2 separate regions of the Homo sapiens genome follow, and region 2 is linked to region 1. The links come from fine-mapping of genetic effects on gene expression. A gene starts in region 1. The other region holds a variant in brackets. All regions are shown on one strand. Distances are from middle to middle. Region 1 holds the start of TRIM38 (tripartite motif containing 38). Region 2 has its middle 14 kb from the start of HFE.

What was found.
Region 2: its variant is fine-mapped to the expression of TRIM38 in whole blood (INTERVAL, PIP above 0.99).

The regions. Positions count from the first base shown.
Region 1 is chr6:25,956,600-25,969,029 of GRCh38, forward strand. TRIM38 (tripartite motif containing 38) reads left to right here and starts at 6,203. Exons shown (of 8, transcript NM_006355.5): 1 at 6,203-6,256; 2 at 6,450-6,683; 3 at 9,736-10,334. The coding sequence starts at 9,924. RefSeq lists a cis regulatory region at 2,071-2,375.
Region 2 is chr6:26,067,531-26,079,960 of GRCh38, forward strand. No RefSeq gene overlaps it. Among named protein-coding and RNA genes, the nearest start is that of HFE, 14 kb to the right of the region's middle. RefSeq lists enhancers at 7,480-7,980, 7,981-8,481. The variant GGT/G (reference allele first, on the strand shown) is at 6,039.

The DNA.
Region 1 (12,430 bases):
ATGGGACATCAATCAAATACGTTTAAGAAATGTACACTGGTTTGGTCCAGAGAGGCGGGACAACTGGAAGCAGCGGAGGAGTGGGGTGGAGGTGATGACAATTGGTTGAGTTTGTATAAAGATTTGGGATTAATAGAAAGGAGCACTAGGTTGTGATAACAGGTTGTGAAGACCAAAGTTGTACTATGGGATGAAGTTTTTAGCTAGCAGGCTTCAGAGAGAATAGGTTGTAAAATGTTTCTTATCAGACTTAAAAGCTGTGTTGATGTTAATGCCAGAGAGGAATAATGAGGCATGTTCAACCCCCACTTCCCTTAATGGCCTGAGCCAGTCTTTCAGGTTACATTTTAAGAAGCCTGACTGAAGAGAAAGTCTATTCAGATGGTTGGGGGGCTTTAGAATTTTATTTTTGTTTTATACCTTTGCCCTTGGAAGTTTTGCTGAAAAATGAACACAAAAAAAGGCAGATTCATAAGATAAAAGGCTTTACAATTTAATTACTCTGTGGTTCTCCTCATGCACATAGTACCAATATCCCAGTGGAATTTAGAAGCTTATATGCCACCTTGAAGTTGAAGAAATAACAGGGGCTTGATCCTTGCAAAATAGGTTATGGGAAACAGAAGAAGAGGAATTCTGTTGAGGGGCAATATGTAACTACCAGGAGAGACTAATTGGATCAAAGAACAGATAAATTTGTAAATAGTTCTCCTTGGAATTTAAATGATGCTTAGAGACTGATTATCTTATAAAAGGGTCTGTTCAGGTGTGGTTACATTCTTGGTCTTTCCTATAATGCACAATGAGATAACAGAGAGGGAGAAAAGAACAATTGTTCTCGCTGGTGGGGCCATCCTATTTTTATGTACCTAGGGAAAAGTCTCTTTAGTGTCTGTTGATCTCTAAGAGTTTTTCATTCAAAATACTCATTATATCAGGAAGCCACATTTTGGGGTGAAATTCACTACTCCCTTTTAGAGATACGGGTACAAACTGTTTGTAAAGAATGCTAAGACTTTGCCGGGTGCAGTGACTCACGCCTGTAATCCCAGCACTATGGAGGGGCCAAGGTGGGCAGATCACTTGAGGTCAGGAGTTCAAGACCTGCCTGGTTAACATGGCAAAACCCCATCTCTATTAAAAAAAACAAAAATTAGCCAGGCGTGGTGGTGGGCATCTGTAATCCCAGCTACTTGGGAGGCTGAAGGCAGGGAGAATTGCTTGAGCCTGGGAGGCAGCTGTTGCAGTGAGCCGAGATCACGCCACTGAACTTCAGCCTGGGCAACACAGCGAGACTGTCTCAAAAAAAAAAAAAAAATGCTAAGACTTACTTTGGGACATCCTTTGTCAGGGTCCATGATTCTGATTAGCTCAAGGCAGGTATTTTTTTTTTTTAATAGAGACAGCATCTTGCTATGTTGGCCAGGCTCGTCTCGAACTCCTGGCCTCCAGTGACTCCCCCCACCTCAGCCTCCCCAAGTGCTGTGATTACAGGTGTGAGCCACCACACCGGTCTGGTTTTTTTTGGTGGTTGTTGTTTTAATCCTATAATCCTGTGTCCTTTCTTCCTACCTCTGAGTAGTGCTTACTCTCTCCCCTTTAGTCATTTGAAAAGTTTATCAGAAAGTGGGTGCAGTTTCAGGCTGGGTACCGTGGCTCATGCCTGTAATCCCAACACTTTGAAATGCTTAGATGGGAGGATCATTTGAACCCAGTTCAAGATTACAGTGAGCTGTGATCGTACCATTGTACTTCAGCCAGGGTGACAGTGCAAGAGCCTGTCTCTAAAAACAAACAAAAAATTGCTTTCACACTGTGATGCTATCACATCTCTCCTAAGCTCTTGTTGGGGCTCAGAAATTGATACCCTAATATATGGCCCTTGGTCATATTGAACTGAAGAAGCCTCAAAGTCTCTCTGACATCCCTGCCACCAACTATCCCTACCAAAACACATCGTGGAATTAAAGTTTCTTTATCTACCTAAGATCCAGACCCACCAAAAAGAGCAATTATTTTTATTTACCCTTCCTGTAAGACCAAGAATGTAACCATGCCCGAACGGACTTTCACAAGATAATGTTCAAGTTAATCTCTGTTCCCTGATCTACTTACTCTCCCTAGTAATGAAAGGAGTTGGCCAGCTTGCTTTAGGCAGACAGTAAGGGAATGGTACCCAGAGAACCTCTGACCTGCCCCACAAGTGCTTACACCGGATGTTTTGTGCAGATAAGGGAACTTGCACAGGGGGCTTGCCTAAACATGCCTGCAGTGGATGATTCCTTTCCTTAACACATGCACAGTTCAGGAAATTAATCAATATGGAGTAGCTCAGTCTAAAGGCCTGCATGCACTGGTAGGACAGGGTGGAGTTGTCAGGAATTTGAGTCTTAAGCCCTAGTATTCAACTGTGAAGAGCAAACCAGAAATCTGCTTTCAGGACCCTTGTCTTTGCTGAGAGCTTTCCTTTCACTTAATAAATTCTACTCCACTCATTCTTTGATGGCTGCATGCCTAATTCTTCCTGGCTGTGAGACAAAAACCCGGACCTAGCTGAGCGAAGGAGCAAAAATCCGCAACAGTAATCCCATCAACAGAGTTTCTCTTCTTCCCCTCCCATAATCTGTTTTGCCAGGATAATATATAAGCTTTTAAGCCCTCTTGGGAAGTGGATAATCATTCTATGGTTCTCCCTGTGTACATGTTAATAAATTTGTGAGTTGATTTTTCAGCAAAGTTTCCCCAGAAGCCAAAGGGGAAATTTCCCTTGGCCCCTCCACTCTCTTTTCCCAGCTCTTCTTTTACTTTCGTTTTTATTTCCTCAGCCCAGTAGGTCACAGCCTTCTTTTTATTTCTTCTCTGTCCAAACCATCAGTATATCCTACAGGTGGGAGAGAAGCAGCTCTCTGGGAAACCAGTAAGCACCATGAGTTCTGATACTTTCTAGTACCATTTGACATATTAACATCCCCGCCACCCCTAATATGTATGGACACGCACACACATACCACATCACATGCATCACACTAACACAAACTATGTATCACATACCACACACAGCACACACAGTACCACATACCCCACACAACACCCACACCACACTACGTGCATCATGCACATATGTGCACACACCTCTTGTGATGTGTGTTTAGTGCAATTCAGAAAGTTACTCTTTGATTTAATGCACATCACTATGCTTAGAAATATTCTAGTTACTGGGATTCATCAGTGAACAATATTGAAAAAAATCCATCCCTTTGCATTCTCATGAGGGAAGCAAACACTAAACAAAATAAATTAGTAAAATATTCAGTGATAAGTGCCATGGGAACAAAATAGATTTGAAAATGTTTGGGAGGGAGAGAGGGGTACACTTGCTAACAAGTGGTCAGGATAGGGTTAGTTGAGAGGCAAAATCTGAAGGAGTTGAGGAAAGGCATTCTAGGAATAGCTGAGTGCTGACTCTTGCCCACAGTGGGAACACACAGTACAGAGCTTCTGAAGGAGACTCTAGTGACCTACTTCCCATTGTGAGTCTTTGGACTCCTATATCCCATAATCACAGGATCAAGCCTAACTTTACATATTAGAGATAATGCATTCCTCCTTGGGGATAGTTCAGGTTGATTTCTCCCTAGGCCTGCCTTTGTCAACATATTCCTGAAGTCTCATCTGCACCCCATCTCTGCTTCTAATATTGGCCACTCTGTGCATGAACCAGCCCCTCCTTCCTGCAATGGGAAACAGGTGTGAGATGGGACAGCTGTCACAATCCGTTTTGCTTTTGTCTTGCTGTTATTATTGGTAATGGTAGTTTGTTTCCTTTTTAGCATTCACTAGCTTCCTTTTCCTGATCCTTTGATAGTGTTACCAGAAAGGGGGTCCCAACCCAGACCCTAAGAGAAGGTTCTTAGATCTCGTGTGAGAAAGAATTTGGGGCAAGTCTACACAGTAAAGTGAAAGCAAGAAAGTAAAGGAATAAAAGAACGGCTACTCTACAGGCAGAGCATCAGCTTCTGGACTAAGGATACTGATATGGTTTGGCTGTGTCCCCACCTAACTCTCATCTTAAATTCCCACATATTGTGGGAGGGACCTGGTGGGAGGTAATTGAATCATGGGGGCAGGTCTTTCCCTGAGTAATTTATACTGCTGTTCTCATGATAGTCAATAAGTTTCATGAGACCTGATGGTTTTATAGAAAGGAATTTCCCTGCACAAGCTCTTTGCCTGCTGCCATCCATGTAAGACCTGACTTGCTCCTCCTTGCCTTCTGCTGTGGTTGTGAGGTCTCCCCAGACACGTGGGACTGTAAGAGCATGAAACATTTTTTCCTGGTATAAATTACTCAGTCTCAGGTATGTCTGGATCAGCAGTGTGAAAATGGACTAATACAGATACTTACAGTTATTTCTTGATTATGTACTAAACAAGGAGTGGATTATTCATATGTTTTCTGGGAAAGATGTGGGCAATTCCCAGAACCAAGCGTTCCTCCCCTTTTTAGACTATATAGGGTAGCTTCCTGACATCGCCATGGTATTTATAAACCACTATGGAGCTGGTGGGAATGCCTTCTAACTTGCTAACACATTATAATTCGTGTATAATGAGCAATGAGAATGACTAGAGGCCACTCTTGTTGCCATCTTGATTTTGGTGGGTTTTGGTCAGCTTCTTTACTGCAACCTGTTTTATCAGCAAGATCTTTATGACCTGTGTCTTGTGCCAACTGCCTATTTCATCCTGTGACTTACAATGCCTAACTTCCTGGGAATGCAGCCCAGTAGGTCTCAGCCTTATTTTACCTAGCCCCCATTCAAAATGGAGTCATTCTGGTTTGAACACCTCTGACAATAGGACAGATCTGGAATGAGCCATGCCTGGGTACAGAGTCACATCCACAACAATGAAAGTTGTAGATATCTGCAAGGACTCATCGTGGGACCAAGGATTCAGGGGCTCATTCTTTCTCCTCTCTCTGTGTGCTGGTTGCCTCAGGAGTAGAATGTCCCATGCTATGCATGGGGTCTGCAACCATCATGCCAGGGCATGATGAATCGTAGGTGGCAAAACAACAGAAGGCTCTGTGAGCACCCAGGAGGGTGCAGTGCTGAAGAGTCTTCTGCTTGGTATAGGAAGAAAGGAACGTGTTTCCCAATCTTGCCTTTATTTTGAGTAGTTGGACCAGAGGGATTGCAGCTGGGCCAAACTCCATGTTCCATTGGCTATCAGGGTCAGCAGGCAGGCCAGGGGCCCAGACAGGCCAGTGGCTCCCAGAATTCAAGTTTAATTTCTCCTCCCACCTGTGTCCTGAGCTCCCCTTACTGGTTCCCTTGGACCACTGCATCTACTTAAGCCAGCATTTATTATGTTGTTATCATAAATGCCTCTTACACCTGAGACTTATAAATGTGACAAGCTCTTATTGTGAGATAGTAATCCATCTTTTTTCCCCATGAAATAATAATTCTAACGGGTGGTGATAGTACTTTTCCTTTCATTTTGAAGTGGAGAAGCTGGAGCTAAGTCATTAAGGACTTGACCCTGGACCCCACAGCCTTTTCTCCACAAAGCACAAAGCAGAGTGATGGTCCCAGGGATCCCACACAGCTCTAAGCTGGGGGCACTCACTGCTGGGCCACTAGTGACTCCCATTTTCTATCCTGGCTGACCCTCGCTATTGAAGAAGATCTGAGTCCTGCAGAAGGACAGCAAGGAGAAAAACAAGACACAGAACGGGACAGAGAAGAATAGAAAGCTGACTCAGATGAATTTTGTGATGCCAATGAGTCCTACTGCTGTTACCACCCCTTTTTCCACCACACCCTTCAGAGCAGTTATAGAACCACAAGCAACCCATAAATAGCAAAAGAAGTAACATCAGCTAGGAAGGCTTAAGGACTCCCAAGGGAGTTGGTGGCAAAAGTAGAAAGATCTCAAATCAGAGTCTGTGAACTGAACCTCTGCAGGCTTCCTGTTTTTAGATACTCTGTGTTGGGGTCACATGATAGTTTACAGGGTTATTAATTGGTTCCTTCTTTTTATTGCTGTAAAAGAAGGATATTTTCTTCCTACGTTTCCCCCTCCTTTACCGGAGAGGCGGAGTGCAAATGATATGAACAACGTCACTAGTTTTCTCCTAAATCTTATGAGCCCCGCCTCCCACAGTAGTTTCACTTCTCAGTTTAATCCGGTCTGAGTTAACTTCCTGACCCAGGAAGTGGCAGCAACAGAGGGGACTAGCAGCGAATATGTAAGTGTCTGAGCAGTGAAGGTTACGGAAAAGGTCCAGGCTAAGGTTTTCTCAGTGGATATGTGAGTGTGTACTGATGGCAAGTGGGGTGGGGAATATATTTCGTGACAGCAGGGCCCCTCCAACTCTGAAAATGGTCAGGACTTTCTTTGTTTTACAGCTCTCACCTCTTTCCTGCTCTTTCTTTCACCAGACTTTACACCAAATCTCAGAAGATTCAGAACTTAGATGAGTGGGGCCCAGGACAGGAACCCTGGAGCCTTGGAAGGAGGGGAGCCCCATCTCCCCAGAAGAGCAGTGACCCCAGCAGAGAGGGGCCTGGTGTATCACTGGAGGAAATAGCCTGCCAAGGAATACACGTCTTCAGAAGAAATTCTGTGTGGCTTCAAGAGACTGATCAAATTGTGAGAGGAAAACAGCCTACCCGGTAATTGTAGTTAAATTACTGTTTTTTATTCTAGGCACTCTTCAAACTTCCTCCTGACTCTGCCCCTGTCCTAGAGGAGCTCCCAGGAGTAGGGGTGTGGGGGCGGGCGGGGGGGAGGGATCGGGGGTACAGGGAGAGCCCAGCTAGGTTCTCAGAAGAGGCAGGCTTTTTCGCTCCTGGTCACTCCTCTGTTGCCTATCCCTGGCCTCCCCCATCTTCTTTCTGCCTTCCCTACCTCCTTGGGTCTGCAAACTCTTTATGTTGCAATCACTCTGAACATGTCTCTTGAGATAGGTCCTGTCCTGGAGAAGAGATAGTAAAAGTAAACTCCCCAGTTCTGCAGGAGCTCTGATCCCATAGAAATAACTGCTCCTCAGGAGCAAACCCTCTGCTCTGCAGCCTTCTTTCCAATTCTTATTCCCTCAGTTTAGGGAGAGGGCACAAAAAGGATAAACCGGTTCTTCTGGTTGTTCTGGTTGCCTTGATTGCTTCCATTATCCTCCTGGTTGGGTCTCTAGCAAGACGTTATTAGCCAGGGAAGTCCCACTTAGGCACCCCTCTCTGCAGAAGAGGTATTCACTATTCTCCTTTCTCTTTCTTTTGCCTATTATACCTCTGCTCCTGAAAGCAAAAACAACAACAACAAAAACACAAACAAAAAACAACCGACCTTATTAACCAGTGTTGGTTGTTGTTCTTTGTGGGGGATGGGGGGGGTCGAGGTGGAGTCAAATTTTATTGTCATGATGGTGTAGGAGCCAAGGGAACACTTCCCCTTTGCCTTCTGAAGTTCACTGAAAAATCGACTCACAAAAGGCAGGCTAATTGGAGAAAAGGCATACAAATTTATTAACAAGTACATGGGCTAGAATCACAGAGTGATTACCCCCTCTGCCAATGGGGGTAGATACTTATATAGCCTTATTTATAAATACTTATGTATAAATACATAAATATAAATATGTATGCATATGTATGTATGTATAAATATGTATGTATACTGTATAAATATGTATGTATAACGTTTATACATGTATACATATTTATTTCAGAGGGGAAGGGTGATATCAGGAGAATATAGGTAATTCTTTGAGGGGCAGTAAATGATTACTAGGGAGAATAAATGAATATTTGGGAGGATGAATGAATGGAGGAACAGAGTTTAACTTGTAAATGGTTCTCTTTGGAAAATGAATGAGCCTGAGAGACAGACATTATTTTGTGAAAGTGTCTGATTAGGTCTGGTTACATTCTTAGTCCTCTTTTCTTCAGTACAAAATGAGATAATAGGGGTTGGAAGGAAAAACAATTGTTCTTCTTGTCTAGTGTGACTGGTCTTTATGTAGATAGGGGAAAAGTCTCTTCCAGCATCTGCTGATCTCTAAGGGCCTTTAATTCAAAATACTCATTATACCAGGGAGTCATATATTGGGGTGAAGCTCCCCATACTCCTTCAATGGAATCTGTCACAGATCACCCAATTGCATAAGTGTTACTACTAATTACAAAGAGTAATTCTGGTACCAATTATTCTTTTTTTTTTTTTTAAGACAGATTCTCGCTCTTTCACCCAGGCTGGAGTGCAGTGGTGTAATCTGGGCTCACTGCAACCTCCCCCTCCGGAGCTCAAGTCATTCTCCTTCCTCAGCCTCCTGAGCAGCTGGGATTACAGGTGTGCACCACCACATCTAGCTAACTTTTTGTATTTTTAGTAGAGATGAGGTTTTGCCATGTTGGTCAGGCTGGTCTCAAACTCCTGACCTCAGGTGATCTGCCCGCCTCGGCTTCCCAAAGTGCTAGGATTACAGGCGTGAGCCACCGTGCTGGCCTGGTAACAATTATTCTTGAAGTTAACTAGAATAGGAAAGAGTTTCACACTCCCTGAGTTCTCTCTTTTACAGCTTTTGTGAGGAAGCCTGCATTGCTTCTCCCAGCACTTGGTCCAAGGTAACTTTCTGTGATAACAGAATGTTGTATATTGAGGCTGTTATGTAGCCACTAGTCACATGCAACTATTAAGCAATCAAAATGTGGCAACTGGAACAGAAAAACTGAATTTTTTCATTTTAATTTTTATTAAGTTAAATTTAAATTCCTACTCATGATAGTGGCTACTGTATTAGCTATACAGCTAGATGTTTGTGTATCCTCTAAATTCCAATGCATTTCTTCTTTCTGGAGAGAAGACTTTAGCTGGACATGGTGGCACATACCTGTAGTCCCAGCCACTCTGCCAGGGTGAGGCAGGAGGATTGCTTAAACCCAGGAGGTCGAGGCTGCAGTGAGCTGTGGTCATGCCACTGCCCTCCACTACAGCCTGGGCAAGAGAGCGAGAACTTGTCTTATAAGAAAAGAAAAAGAGGCTGGGCACGGTGGCTCATGCCTGTAATCCTGGCACTTTGGGAGGCTGAGGCGGGTGGATCACAAGGTCAAGAGATCGAGCCAACCAACATGGTGAAACCCCATCTCTACTAAAAATACAAAAATTAGCTGGGCGTAGTGGTGCACACCTGTAGACCCAGCTACTACTCGGGAGGCTGAGGCAGGAGAATCGCTTGAACCCGGGAGGCGGAGGTGCAGTGAGCCGAGATAGCGTCACTGCACTCCAGCCTGGGTGACAGAGTGAGACTCCGTCTCATTAAAAAAAAAAAAAAAAGTTAGAAGACTGAGAAAAGAAAAATAATGAAATAATTTAGAGCAGTCTGAGCTATGTGAGGTATGCAAAATTTATCAGGACAAGTGAGGCAGGAGTATAGGTCTTCAGTTAAGACCCCATGTTTAAAAGCATTTTGTTCCTGACTGGCTGCCTCATCTATTACCTACATATTCCCGAGATTTGTAATACAAAGAACAATGTATAGCCAGTCAAAAGCTTATGCTATTTTAATGTAAATTCTTGGCAAACAACTTTAAAACTGCTTTAAAACTGCTTTTTTTCCTCTAAACAACCACTTGTAACTGCTTGCTAATGAGGGCAACTTGAAACTCTGCACTTGGGTTGCAGTTCTCAAACGTGGCCCAAACAACCTCAGCCTCAACTTCTTCCTTTTAGGTCCTCTTTTCTTCAATACAAAATGAGATAATAGGGGTTGGAAGGAAAACCTTCAAGACCTATGGAAGTCAGTTGCAGCCAGCTCATCACATAGAGGTGCAGGTGAGGTGTATTTTCATCACGGTGGAAAATTCTGGCTGCTTCATCTCCATCTCTAGAGCCAATATTGGAGCTTTTCAATAAAAGCTATGGCCTCAACCACCAGCACCAAGAAGATGATGGAGGAAGCCACCTGCTCCATCTGCCTGAGCCTGATGACGAACCCAGTAAGCATCAACTGTGGACACAGCTACTGCCACTTGTGTATAACAGACTTCTTTAAAAACCCAAGCCAAAAGCAACTGAGGCAGGAGACATTCTGCTGTCCCCAGTGTCGGGCTCCATTTCATATGGATAGCCTCCGACCCAACAAGCAGCTGGGAAGCCTCATTGAAGCCCTCAAAGAGACGGATCAAGAAATGTCATGTGAGGAACACGGAGAGCAGTTCCACCTGTTCTGCGAAGACGAGGGGCAGCTCATCTGCTGGCGCTGTGAGCGGGCACCACAGCACAAAGGGCACACCACAGCTCTTGTTGAAGACGTATGCCAGGGCTACAAGGTGAGTGTGTGGGCCCGGGAGCTTTGGTAAGTACCAAGTCTTATCCTGCTCCCCAGGAGCTGAGATGATTTAACTTGAAACCTAACATTATGACTTGGAAATACAGCTTTCATCATGTCATTCTTCTGAAAAATAGTTTATGATGATTTCTTGCTCAATTATCTAGACTGTCCATCCTGACCTTCAATGGGATGGTTGGACTCTTATCTCTATCCATTTGTGTTATGATGAATTTCTTTTTGCTTTAGAACAGGTTGTTCTCAAACCAAACACCCGCATTTTTTCTTGTTTCACACCATGAATATCATTTGAAAAACCACAATATGTAAAGCCATGCAGTAGGGCCTGAAAACAGGGAAGAAAGACCCATCACCTTTTAGGTATCTACAGTCTAGTAAAGAAAACAAACCATCAAAAATGTCTGCCTGGAGGTCCCTGGTTTTGGTGGTGGGGAGGGACATTTAGGGTAGAGAGTGGTTCATCTTAGAAGTAACTCCTGAAGGACACGTAAAAATTGAACACCTATTGGGGGATTTTCATTTGGGGAATGAAGGGTCAGTGACATTGAAAATATCACTCTGGTACCTCTACTTTTTTTTTTTTTTTTTTTTTTTTTTCCTGAGGTAGGGTCTTGCTCTGTATCCCAGGTTGGAGTACAATGGTGCAATCTCGGCTCACTGCAGCCTCAACCTTCTGGGGCTCAAGCAATCCTCCCACCTCAGCCTCCCAAGTAGCTAGGACTACAGGGATGCCCCACCATACCTGGATAATTTTTTTATTTTTTGTAGAGACATGGTCTGCCTTTCTTGCTTATACTGGCCTCAAACCCCTGGTCTCCCTCCCATCTCAGCCTCCCAAAATGCTGGGATTAGAGGCATGAACCACTGTGCCCAGCTACTGTGGCATGTCTATGATAAAAGGAATATCAAGGAGTAAAATTCAAACTATCCGTATAAGAAAGGGAGGAGAGGGCAGATTTTAAGCACGATTCAGGAAGAAGAGTCAAAGATTTGGAAATGCTTGGTTGTGGAAGGTGAAGCAGAGGGAGAGGTTTTGTGTACCATCCAGATTTCTTGCCAGAAAGCATATTAAGGAAGGTGGGACTTTGCTGTTGGCAGCATGGAGGAATGGGCATAGTCCTGATGTCCTTTTTCCTTCTCTGTCCTGCCTAAATTTGAGGAAAATGTTGTCTCCAGTGTCAGGCTCCTTATTCTGTCCTCCATGAGGCAGAGGTGGTCTTGTATGAAGGCTCTAAGTCCTTCTAAGGACATGTCAATCATGACCACCACTCAGCTCATGGCAGCTCTTCCTTAAACTCCATGGAGCAGCTAATAACTGCGATGATCATATTCCCATTTGAATTACTTTTCCACCAAGTAGTAAGAAAAGGAACCAGCTTATGTTGAAATTGAGTTTTGTCACTTACTAGATGGGCAATTTTGGGCACGTTACTTAATGTCTTCACACCTTGGTTTCTCCATCTGTAAATGGGGATAATAGCAGTGTCCTCCCTCCCTAAAACACATACACAGGAGGTGGTTATAAGCTTTGAGGACATTAAAATATAGAATGCATAGAATAGCACTTGGCATATAGTAAGGACAATGTCATCTTTTGCTAAAACAGTTACATAGAACCTTTTCCTGAGAACACTCGAGAATGAATGAGTATACTTGTTGGGTTTACAGAGGACAGGAGACAATTCTTTCAGCATTGACTACAATTAGCAATTTGGGTCAGCTTCAAATCACTTTCAATAGAAATATGAGAAACTGTTTTGAAGAATAAGCTAAAAGCTTGACATGAATACTAAATCATTTTAAATTGGATTCATGATACCATTGTTCAAAAGATACCAGAATTCCCCTCTTCCATGAACTGTTTCTAATAACCAGCTGGCATCCTGATTTTTCCTGACTCATAAGACACAAAATTTCATGTGTGCCAAACACTGGTATTGGTTTTGCTTGGTTCAGCATGTTGTTTTACAAAATCTTTTAGATGATGATTACCTTGTTCTATATCCAACTTTTTCCTGGCAGGACTCTAGTGGTGGACATAGCTCAGGCTCTGGGTCAGCAGATGAGATTGCAATT
Region 2 (12,430 bases), 110 kb after region 1:
GCCTGTCTGTCTAGATTCTTCTTCGCCTCTCTGTGCAGCATTCCTTCCTTCTGGATCCTCTCTGGAATGCGGTCTGGTGATCTATGATCAAATAAGGTAGTTCAGATAATTTCTTTATGGCCAGTTTTTACACAGAAAAACAGAGGGAAAGTTAGAGTAATATTTTTAGGTTTTATGGCTGGGCTCTGGGGAAAAGGTGTTTTGATTTCTATGACCTAACTTGAGGAAGAGGAATTCTCATTTCTATGGCTAGACTCCGGGGAGAATGGGACTCAGAGACAGGAGGGCAGGAGAAGATCAGAGAAAAACTTTGGCTTCTGCGGTCTTTATTTTGGGGTATTGTTTTCTGAGTTCCAACAAACCCCAAGGACCTACAAAGACTGCATACTTTTTTTTTCCTTTTTATTAATTGTGAGATAACCACAGCATAGGCAATTTGTTTTTTGTTTTTGTTTTTGAGACAGGATTTTGCATTGTTGCCCAGGCTGGAGTGCAGTGGCATAATCATAGCTCACTGCGTCCCCAAACTTCTAGGCTCAAGAGATCCTCCCAGCTTAGCCACAACTGAGAGGTGCTACTAGCATTTAGTGAGTAGAGAACAGATATGACTAGAGGTTCATTAAGTGTTTTGAGCCTTTACAGCTTCAAAATTGTCTTTGCTAACCCCTAACTTTTGGATGCTACAGAGGGCCCCTGGAGTATCCAAAGGAGAGGTAAACAGGATCATTTGACACGTTTAGTTATATAGGATTGTTGAAATAAGGTGATATTTGATCTTCAGGTCATATTTCAGTGAAAACTGTGAATGTGTGTTCCAAAATTATAGGGGATTTCTAGAGTTCTGATATCTGAGTTTGTGTCATCAGTTATAATTAGAGTTATTGTGTTAGGCTATTGTAAATCACAGAGGTGACTAAATTTCTTTGTCAATTGTGTTTTTGACTGTGACTACCCTAGGACATTTTAACATTCATAGACAAATGTTGTCTTGTTTTGAAACTCTGCAAAGAATGGATTATAACCCTCAATTGCAGGTTTCTGATAACTTTGAAGATTGTGAACAGGAGTTAACTAGGTGAGCTGAACTATTGGAAAACTAATCTTCTTGACTCTTGCCTCTGTACCTAATTCTTCCTGGATGCAGGACAAGAACTCAGGCAAAGGTGCTGCAGCATAAAGTCTGGCCAGAGAAACTGACACTCCAGAGGTTTTGTAACAATATTTTATGTTAAATAATTTATACGTATTTCCTATTCTAAGCATTTCAAGTGATTGTAAAAACTCAACTCATGAAAACTTATAGCTGAGATGATGTATCCTGTGATTTTTAACTCAACTTTATACCAATCTAAGTTGATTAGCATTCTTACAAAGTTTAAGAAGTTAAGATTTGCCATATTAAGTATTGTCTTAAGATTTTTAAGAATTGAAAAATTTGGAGCAGTTTTGTTCATTAGTCAATTGGATACTTTAAAAGTCCAGTATGTCAGATTTAAAAATTGCAATTTATAAGTTTTCTTCTTAAAGTTCGTCAAATTGCAAAAGCCTTGCCAAAAATGAATGTTAAAAATTTGGTAGATTATTTGTTCTATGGGTTCTATGGGAAAAAATTGGTAGATTAATAAATGCCAATAGTAAGCATTGTAAATTGAATTTAAAAGTTTAAGGAAGAGCTATTAATTTAATTTTGTCATAATAATGAATTGAATGTTGTTTTTTAAGTACCATAGTACTTGCTGAATGATCTTTCTGTATGGAAAAGGACATAAAAATGCACATTGGTAACATCAACTCTATTTCAGCGGCGGGATTGTGGGGTGAGCTTATCTCCAGGTTTGGGAAGGATGTGTTGTATCATCTGCCTCTTGTGTGTGTACTACCTGCCATTGCTGCTTGGCCACCAGCATCCATCTTGGTGAGTCCTGTCTCCCTCTAAAAGACTCGAGCTGTGCTGTTCAATCCAGTAGCCCCTAGCTACATGTAGCTATTGTAATGAATTAAAATTAAGTAAAATTAAACATTCTGCTCCTCAGACACCAGTCACATTTCAAGTGCACAATAGTCACAAGTGGCCAGTAGCTAGTTTTGAACAGTGTGGAAAGATTTCTGTCATCACAGAGCATTCTATTATCACGTTGTAAAGCATTCTCTAGCTCTTGCAAACTTGTCAGATCCCTTAAAAGTTCTTAAAAATAATTCATCATTCGAATTTTGCTCAGACTAATTTTTAGGGAAGTCTTTTTCTGGAGGCGTGGACTTGTGATCTCCATAATTCATCCCTTCTACTATGTTAGTTACCTTGAGCTGCTGTAATAAAATACTATAGACTTAGTCGCTAAAAAAAAAATAACTTTCTCACAGTTCTGGAAGCTCAGAAGTCCAAGATCCAGGTGCTGGCCAATTCAGTTTCTAGGTGAACGCTCTCTTCCTGACTTGTTGGTGGCAGCAGCATTCTCACTATGTGCTCATGTGGTGTCCTTTTTGTGCTTGTAGGGCTTAGGCAGTGGAGAGAAGGAGGAGAGAAAAAGAGGTCTCACTGTTTTCTCCTTTTCCCGAGACAGGTTCTCGTGTAGCCCAGGCTGGACAGCAATGGCTCACTGCAGCCTCCTCCTGGGCTCAAGCAATCCTCCCACCTCAGCCTCCAGAGTAGCTGGAGCCTCAGATGTGTACCACCACACCCAGTTCATTTTTTAAATTTTTAGAAGTTGGGGGTCTCACTATTTTGTCCAAGCTGGTCTTGAACTCCTGGGCTAAAGCGAGCCTCCTGCTTCAGCCTCTCATAGTGTTGGAATTACAGGCATCAGCTGCAGCACCTGGCTCTATTGTCTTTTTTTTTTTTTTTTTTGAGATGGAGTCTCTATCACCCAGGCTAGAGTACAGTGGTGTGATCTCACTGCAACTTCCACCTCCTGGTTTCAAGGGATTCTCCTGCCTCAGCCTCCCAGGTAGCTGGGAGTACAAGCGTGCACCACCACACCTGGCCAATTTTTGTATTTTTAGTAGACATGGGGTTTTACCATGTTGGCCAGGCTGGTCTCAAACTCCCAACCTCAGGTGATCCATCCACCTCAGCCTCCCAAAGTGCTGGGATTACAGGCATGAGCCACTGCACCTGGCCTGTTGTCTCTTTTAATAAGGGCATGAATTTCATCATGAGAGACACATCCTGATGAGTTTGTCTAAATATAATGACTTCCCAAACGCCCCAGCTCCAAGTACCATCACACTGGGGGTTAGGGTTTCAACATATGAATTTTGCGACGGGGAGTCAATTCAGTCCATAGTACCTACTGTATTAGTTTTCTGGGGCTGCAGTAACAAAGTACCTCAAACTCGTTGGCTTAACAACAGATATTTATCGTCACACAGTCCTGGAAGCTGGAAGTCTGAAATCAAAGTATCATCAGGTTTGATTCCTTCTGAAGGCAATGAGGGATAATCTGTTCCAGGTTTCTCTCCCAGCTTCTGGTATCCCCAGACTCATTGCTTGACTTGAATGGTGATTCTCCCTGTGTCTACTCACCACATTTTCTCTCTATAGGTGTCAGTCTCTGTGTATGACATTTCTCCTTTTTATAAGGACACCCTTTATGTTGGGTTAGAGCCCACTCTTATCTTAACTGATGAAGTGCAAAGACCCTATTTCCAAATAAGGCCACATTCACAGGTCCTGATACAGGAGGGGGAAAGTGCTGGGAAGGGAAGGGCATGGTCCCTTTAAATGATATGGAAGTGGGGAAGGGAAGGGCGTGGTCCCCGGCTAGGGCTCCACCCCCAGGCCTGTGCCCAGGGACCACGGTGAGGACAGGCATTTTTGTTTTCCTGCCCAAATGTTGCATTTCCCAAGACCTCCCCTGGCCTGCCACAAGACACGAATAGCTGGACGTCCAGGGGAGCACACTGGCAGAAGAGCACACAACAAACGTTTGCCTGGCAAAATGAGGCGGAATTTGACTGGGGTGGTTGGAGGAGAGCCTGGGCCACTGAGTGGCTGACTCCAAGGGAAAACTTTCCCACTCCATCCACTTTTGGCTTTGCCCAACTGCTGAGAGCTACCTCCACTTAATAAAACCTTGCACTCTTTCTCTAAGCCCAGGTGTGGTCTGATTTATTCCGGTACACCAAGGCAAGAACCTGGGATACAGAAAGCCTTCTTCTGTCCTTGGGACAAGGTAGACGGTCTAATTGAGTTGGTTAACACCAGCTGCCTATAAATGGCAAAACTAAAAGAGCACCCTGTAACACACACCCACTGTGGCTTCAGGAGCTGTAAACATTCAACCCTAGACACTGTGGTGGGGTCATGGGGTTGGAGACCCACAACCTGCCCGTCTTAATGTTCCCCTAGAGGTTTGAGCAGCCAGGCACTGAAGAAATTAGCCACACTCCTATCACATGCCATGCGAGCGGGACAAGGGAACTTTTCCCATTTCAGTACTGGTGGTTAGGACTTCAACAACTTTATTTTTGTGGGAATGCATACTTCAACCCATATTATGAGGGTTCCTAGAATGTGGACTGCTGAGGCTGAAGCACTACCTAAGTGCCTGAGGCCAGCCTGCAGTTGGTTTCTGGCTCTCATGAGTTAGCTAACATCTCGGGAGAGAGGAAGACAGGCCTAGGAAGAGCAGAGCCCACGATTCATTCTTCATTCCACCTCTGCTCTTCAGAATCTCCTTCAGTCTATGTGATGAGCCATCAGACCTCTTGGTGGGAAATGGTGCTGCCGTGCCTAGCCCTTTTCGATTGTGCTACCATGCTGAGATTACTGAGGGACCAGGAAGGCCTGGACTCAGACCATATAGGGTGCCACCCTAGTGGGAATGGAACCTGTCAGTGCTGGGTGAATGTGACCGTCCCATGAGGAGAAGACAGATACTCTTGCCAAGCTGAGCATGGAGACCTGATGGGACACTCATTATCATGAGGGGATGAAGATCCAGGCTTCCAAAGTTGGTACCACAGGGTGGCTATGGCATGAACAGGGGGTTAGGATGAAGGACCCAGAATCTAACATGCTGGAGAGGTAGGGAAAGGAGTCAGAAATTCAGTCTTGTTGAACCCTAAATATTGCATCTCTCTCTCTCTTTATTTTTTTTTTCTGGAGATGGGGGTCTGGCTCTATCATCCAGGCTGGGGTGTAGTGGCATGATCTCTGCTCACTGCAGTCTCCGCCTTCTGGGTTCAAGAGATCCTCCCACCTCAGCTTCCTGAGTAGCTGGGACTACAGGTGCGCGCCACCACTCCCAGCTCATTTTTGTACGTTTTTGTAGAGACACGGTCTCACCATGTTGTCCAGACTGGTCTCGATCTCCTGAGCTTAAGCGATCTGTCGCCTCGGCCTCCCAAGAAGGATTGGGATTACAGGGCCTGAGCCACTGTGACCAGCCAACATTGCATCTAATTTTAGGGTATTCATCTGACTTTCCTGAACACTGCTTCTTGGGTGCTCATTTTAGCAGGCATTTGGCCATAGGTAGATTTAAAGTTTTGGTGGGTTTTGTTGTTGTTGTTGAGACAAAGTGTCACTCTGTTGCCCAGGCTGGAGTGCAGTGGCAAGATCTCAGCTAACTTCAACCTCCATCACTGTGCTTCAAGTGAGTCTCCTGCCTCAGGCTCCCGAGTAGCTGGGATGACAGGTGTGTGCCACCATGCCCTGCTAATTTTTTATATTTTTAGTAGAGATGGGGTTTCGCCATGTTGGCCAGGCTGGTCTGGAACTTCTGACCTCAGATGATCTGCCCGCCTCAGCCTCCCAAAGTGCTGGGATTACAGGTGTGAGCCACAACCCCTGGCCAACGTTTTCTGAAAAAGCTATTCTAATCAGGTAGGAAAGATGGGAAGCGGGGTGGCGGGGTGTACTTTTTTCTGCATATTCAGTTGCAGGGTCCCAGACCAGGGAACAATCTTCAATCTCTTACCTTCAATCTCCCTTCATGGAAGTCAGTGCTCAGCCTGGCCATTTACTGTGTGCAGTAGGTGTGATGTAGAAAGCCTCTAAACCTCCATGCCTACCTGCCAGGAACAATATACACAAA[GGT/G]GTGTGTGTGTGTGTGTGTGTGTGTGTATCTTACGGATTCTTCCACGTAACTATGTGGACATCTAATCCATTGCTTCCAACTCTATATTGTGCAGTGACTTCATTTTACCTCCACCTCTCTCAGTGAAGGATATCAGTCAGCCCACACTTTCCTGTCACCTTTATGGGATATGTTTGAGATGATATTTGGAAAATATTCCCAGGGAGTGGGCACTCCCATCAGCAGTGTATGAGGATTCCTGAGTCTCCATATCCACACCAATACTGAGCATTATTCAGCTCTCTAATTTGTTAATGCTCTCTTTTAAATGCAAAAGGACACATCACTTTACCTTTCTTTCATTACCAAGTGCTTTGGATTTTCCTGTATCTAAATTTCTTGTTCATTTATTTCATATATATATATATATATATATATATATATATATATATATATAATTTTTTTTTTTTTTGAGACAGAGTCTCACACTGTCACCCAGGCTGGAGTGCAATGGTGTGATCTCAGCTCACTGCAACCTCTGCCTCCTGAGTTTAAGTGATTCTCCTGCCTCAGCCTCCCAAGTAGCTGGGATTATAGGCACCCACCACCACGCCCGGCTAATTTTTTGTATTTTTTGTAGAGATGGGGTTTCACAATGTTGGCCAGCCTGGTCTCAAACTCCTGATCGGCCCGCCCTGGCCTCCCAAAGCGCTGGGATTACTGGCATGAGCCACCGCGCCCGGCCTCATACATTTTTTATGTGGAGTTTCTGTTTTGTTCTTCTTGGCCTTGTGCATTCTAATTACTCATCCTTTCGTCTGATTCAGACATTTAATTCTCTACCATCCTTACAGCAGTGTCTTAACTTTATCCATGGGATCCTTCATTGAACCGGAATTCTTAATTTTGACACAAACAAATTTATCAATTTCTTTTTTGTGTGTGTTTTTTTTTTCTGTGTGTGGTTTTTGTTTTTCACATTTCTGAGTATGACCTAGATTTATCCTTTGATAACTTCTTCTCTCTTCCCCATTTTCCTCCACTGGAGGTCAGCTATATGTGTGTGAGAGGGTTAGGTATATGTGGATATATAGAGAAAGTTTAGGTATACATATGTGGAGAGGTCAGATAAATATGTATATATGGGAGAGATATTGGGTATATATTTTGGGGAGGGGAGGTCAGGTATATGTGGACATATGGGGAGGGGAGACCACAGCTCTCCTGGAGTCACCCTCTTCCTCTTCCCTTCTGGGCAGGTAACGGTGGGGAGTGAGAGGGTGTTCCTCCCTTCTTATTATTAGCCCCTGGGTACTTTAGGGTCTCTAGTGGTTATTTTTCACAGAATTTTAACTGATAACTAATGAACAAATGTTTTCCCCACAGAAATATCTTTACGCCTTTTACAATCATTTTTATTTTCTATGCCATAACTTTATTAATATTTGCCAATTTACTTGGGGTAGGACTTTGAAAATTTTGTTTAAATTAAGGGAGGAGACCACCCCTCATATTGTCTTATGCCCAATTTCTGCCTCCAAAGAAAGAAAAAGTAAAAATTAAAAGGGAGAAATGAAATCCACAGGCAAACAGCCCGGCACCGCACCCTGGGTCTGGTTAAAGATCGACCTTTGACCTAACAGGTTATGTTATCTATAGATTCCAGACATTGTATGGAAAAGCATTGTGAAAATCCCTGTGCTGTTCTGTTCTGTTCTGATTACTGATGCATGCAGCCCCAGTCACGTACCCGCTGCTTGCTCAATCAATCACGACCCTCTCATGCAGACCCCCTTAGAGTTGTAAGCCCTTAAAAGGGACAGGAATTGCTCACTCAGGGAGCTGGTTTTTGGAGACAGAGGTGATTAACGGACGGTCAAGGCAGCCCCTTAGGCGACTTAGGCCTGCCCTGTGGAGCATCCCTACGGGGAACTCCAGCCAGTTTGAGCGACACAGATCTGGAGAGCGCTCCCAGGTAGGCAATTGCCCCGGTGGAACGCCTCACCAGAGCAGCACGTGGCAGGCCCTCGTGGAGGATCAACGCAGTGGCTGAACACCGGGAAGGAACTGGCACTTTGTTGTCAGGGCATATTCCAAAAGCATTAAGGCCTTCCTATCAAAAATCCTTAACCCAGTAACCCGCGGATGGCCCAAATGCATTCAATCTGTAGCGGCAACTGCTTTGCTAACAGAAGAAAGTAAAAAAATAACTTTTACAGGAAACCTCATTGTGAGCACACCTCACCGGTTCAGAAGTATCCTAAGGAAAAAAGAAAAAAGAAGATGATTTAACATTAACCACTGAAAATTCTCTTAACCCGGCAGGTTTCCTAACAGGGGATCTAAATCTTAATTACCATACAAAGCTCTGACCAGACCTAGGAGGAACTCCCTTCAGGACAGGAGGATAGATGGTTCCTCCCAGGTAATTAAAAAAAAAAAAAAGCCATCTATACCAATTCTAAGTTAATTTGGACTAAATAAGGTCTTATTAATAGCAAAGGATAATTGAAATCCCAAACTTACAAGGTTTTCAACAAAAGTAAAGTTTGCTAAAAGTTAACAGTGTAACATGTATTATAGTAACTTCTAATCTTGTGGCCTTAGACAGTCTAGTCCACAGACATAAAAGAAGTTCGCTTTGGAAAAGAATGGTTATCATCCTCGGAAAAAAAAAAAAGGAAATAAAGAGGAGGCAGAATTTATATAAAAAAGAATGTTGTATGGAAAATCCTTGTCCTGAGATAAATTAACTAGTTGTTTAAAGAAAGGGATGTTTGCAATAAGTCAGAAAGTTGAGGCATGTCGAAGAATTGTCTGTGAAAGTCATGAAAAAAATGTGTGTTAGAAAAATAAATTTATGTAAGAAATGTTGTATAATTTAAAAGTAATTAGGCCTCCTTCTAAATGTAAAACTATTGAATAAACAGTTTATGTGCAAGGTATGTAAGGAAAGTAAAATATACCTTTGGTAAAAGGATTATGAGGATGCATAAGAATGTGGATTTTTACCTACATTAAAAGGTTACAAAAATTGTTTTGAAGGTTTAAGCAAGTTTTGAAACCTTAATTGTAAAGAAAATTCTGTGTCTAAACATATTGGCTAAAGTTAAGGGGTATCATACAGTTTTTCTGTGAACTGAACATTAAAATAAAAACACAACGGGTTTTTCTTAAAGCACTAACCTGTTCTTTAACAAAAATTATAAAAGGTTAAAGAAAAGTCTATAAAAATCTTACCTTATGGTCAGACATTAAAAATCAAATAAATATGTCTACAGAGTTTTATTAAAACTAAGTTTAACATTAATAACACACCAATATAAAGGTGAAATCTAGCTTATCTGGTATAAACATACAAGAAGCGTTGTCAAATATAAAATGGCATTTGACTTTCTTTGGTCTAAAAACTAATAAAAATAGGTGCTAAAGGAAATTTCTCAGTAAGAAGGCACCAAGGACTATAAAGTCCACTGCTGATGTCCCCACATTTAAAACAAAAGGTCAACTTCTTAAAAGTTATATACTTGGTTTATCTTCCACTTTCCTTTCCCTCAAAACTAAAAGTCTTTTAGCACATGTACCACCCCTAGAATTTTCTGTAAACCAGCACCAGCCTGAAGATCATGTTCTCATCAAAGGGTGGAAAGAAGGAAAACTTGAGCCAGCCTAGGAAGGACCCTACCTTGTGCTGCTAACCACCGAGACTGTTGTTCATACGGTGAAAAAGGGATGGACTCATCACACCCGAGTCAAGAAAGTGCCACCCCCTCCAGAGTCATGGGCCATAGTCCCAGGGGAAAACCCTACCAAACTAAAGCTAAGAAAAATTTAACTCCTTCATCTATTCTATTACTCTTTCTTCTTCCCTCACTCTATTTCTGACCATCTAGTTATTAACATAACCAAGTCAATTTTGCCTCAAACTATTGAATTTAATGCTTGCCTTGTTATACCCTGTGGGGACTTGCCAAGTCGAAGACATCTCTGTACTTCAGAAAAGTACCTCTGTCCCTCCTGACTCTCCTCAGACTGAGCCTTAGTAAACTGAGACCATTTATTCCAGAGAGATTTCAATAAAGACCCCAGTGTCAACGAGGAGTCTTGCCCCCCGATGTAGAGCTTTTATGCCATAGTTGGTCGAATGTTGTGTGGACCACTAAAGAGCAAGGATGGACTGCCCCAACCGGTTTTTGTAATTTCCTAAAATCATACATTCATTTTACTAGAGGGTCATAGAAGTTAAAGACTTAAAACAAACTTTGATAATTAAGCAGGATACCAAGATGCAAATGCCCAGTTGGAATGGATCAAATATTCTGTCCACACATTAAACAAAACCAATTGTTATGCTTGTGCACATGGCAGGCCAGAGGGCCAGATTATCCCCTTTCCACTAAGGTGGTCCTCCTGTTGACCAGGCATGGGCTGCATGGTAACTGTTTTCCAGGATTCTACAGCCTGGAGTAATAAGTCGTGCCAAGCTCTCTCTGCTATATCCCAAAGTCCAGCACCCTGCAGGTCAACCCCTGAGGGCCATCCAGCTTCCATCTCCCAAAACTAAGTTCACTTCTTGTCTCTCATGACAGGGAGGAAACTTAGCATTCCTTGGAGACCTGAAGGGATGCAGTGAGCTTAAGAATTTTCAGGAGCTTCTCAATCAGTCAGCCTTTGTTCATCCCCAAGCGGATGTGTGGTGGTATTGTGGTGGACCTTTACTGGGCACTCTGCCAAATAACTGGAGCGGCACTTGTACTTTAGTCCAATTGGCTATCCCTTTCACCCTAGCATTTCATCAACCAGAGGGAGGAAAAATAAGACATCGTAAAGCAAGAGAAGACCCTTATGTGTCTTTCAACTCTCACATCTATTTAGATGCAATTGGAGTCCCACAGGGAATAGCAGATCAATTTAAATCCCAAAATCAAATAGCTGCAGGATTTGAGTCAATATTTTGGTGGGTGACAGTTAATAAAAATGTAGATTGGATAAACTACATCTATTACAACCAACAGCAATGAGTTTTTCATGAGTTAAAAGAAAAACTCATGTCGGCCCCAGCCCTGGGGCTACCTGACCTGACAAAACCCTTTACACTCTATGTGTCAGAAAGAGAAAAAATGGCGGTTGGAGTTTTGACCCAGACTGTGGGGCCCTGGCCGAGGCTGGGCCTCCAAACAACTAGATGGAGTTTCTAAGGGTTGGCCTCCATGCTTAAGAGCCTTGGCAGCAACAGCCCTGCTAGCACAAGAGGCAGATAAGCTAACTCTTGGACAAAACCTAAACTTAAAGGCCCTCCATGCTGTGGTGACTTTAATAAATACATCATTGGCTAACAAATGCTAGATTAACCAAGTACCAAAGTTTGCTATGTGAAAATCCCTGCATAACCATTGAAATTTGCAACACCCTAAAACCTGCCACCTTGCTCCTGGTATCAGAAAGCCCAGTTGAAAGTGACTGAGTAGAGGTATTGGACTCAGTTAATTCTAGTGGGCCCAACTTCCAAGACCATCCTTGAACATCAGTAGACTGTGAGCTGTACGTGGCAGCTTCGCCAACGCCTGCAAAGTGACTGAAGAAGACAACAAGCCCTGCTCCAGTCACACCCGGAAGCTGACTGGTCCATGCATGGCCGAAACATGAGAAAACTCATCAAGGGACTCATTTTCCTTAAAATTTGGACTTGCACAGTAAAGACTTCAACTAACCTTCCTCAGACTGAGGGCTGTTCCCAGTGTATACATCAAGTCACTGAGGTAGGACAAAAAGTTGCTACAGTCTTATTATTTTATGGTTATTATAAGTGTACAAAGACTCTAAAAATAACTTGTTTGTATAATGCTATTCTATACAAGGTAGGTAGCCCAAGAAATGACCAACCTGATGTGTGTTATGACCCATCTGAGCCTCCCACGACCACAGTTTTTGAAATAAGATTGAGGACTGAGGACTGGTGGGGGTTCATAAACGATACGAGTAAAGTGTTAGCCAAAACAGAAGAAAAAGGAATGCCCAAACAAGTCACCTTGAAATTTGATGCCTGTGCTGTCATTAATAGTAATAAGTTAGAAATAGGATGTGGTTCTGTTCATTAGGAAAGAGGCTATATGGCAGAAAATAAGTACGCTTGTCATGAATTAAGACTGCGTGGAAATAAATGTAGATACTGGTCTTGTGTCATTTAGGCAACTTGGTTAAAAAATAAAAAGAATCCTGTCCACCTTCAGAAAGGGAAAAGTGGCCCTTCCTGTACCAGTGGTCAGTGTAACCCCTTAGAACTAGTAATAACCAACCCCCTTGATTCTCACTGGAAAAAAGGGGATCGTGTAACCTTAGAAATAGTTGGGGCTGGACTGGATCCTTGAGTAAATATGGTGGTTTGAGGAGAAGTTTATAAATGCTCCCCT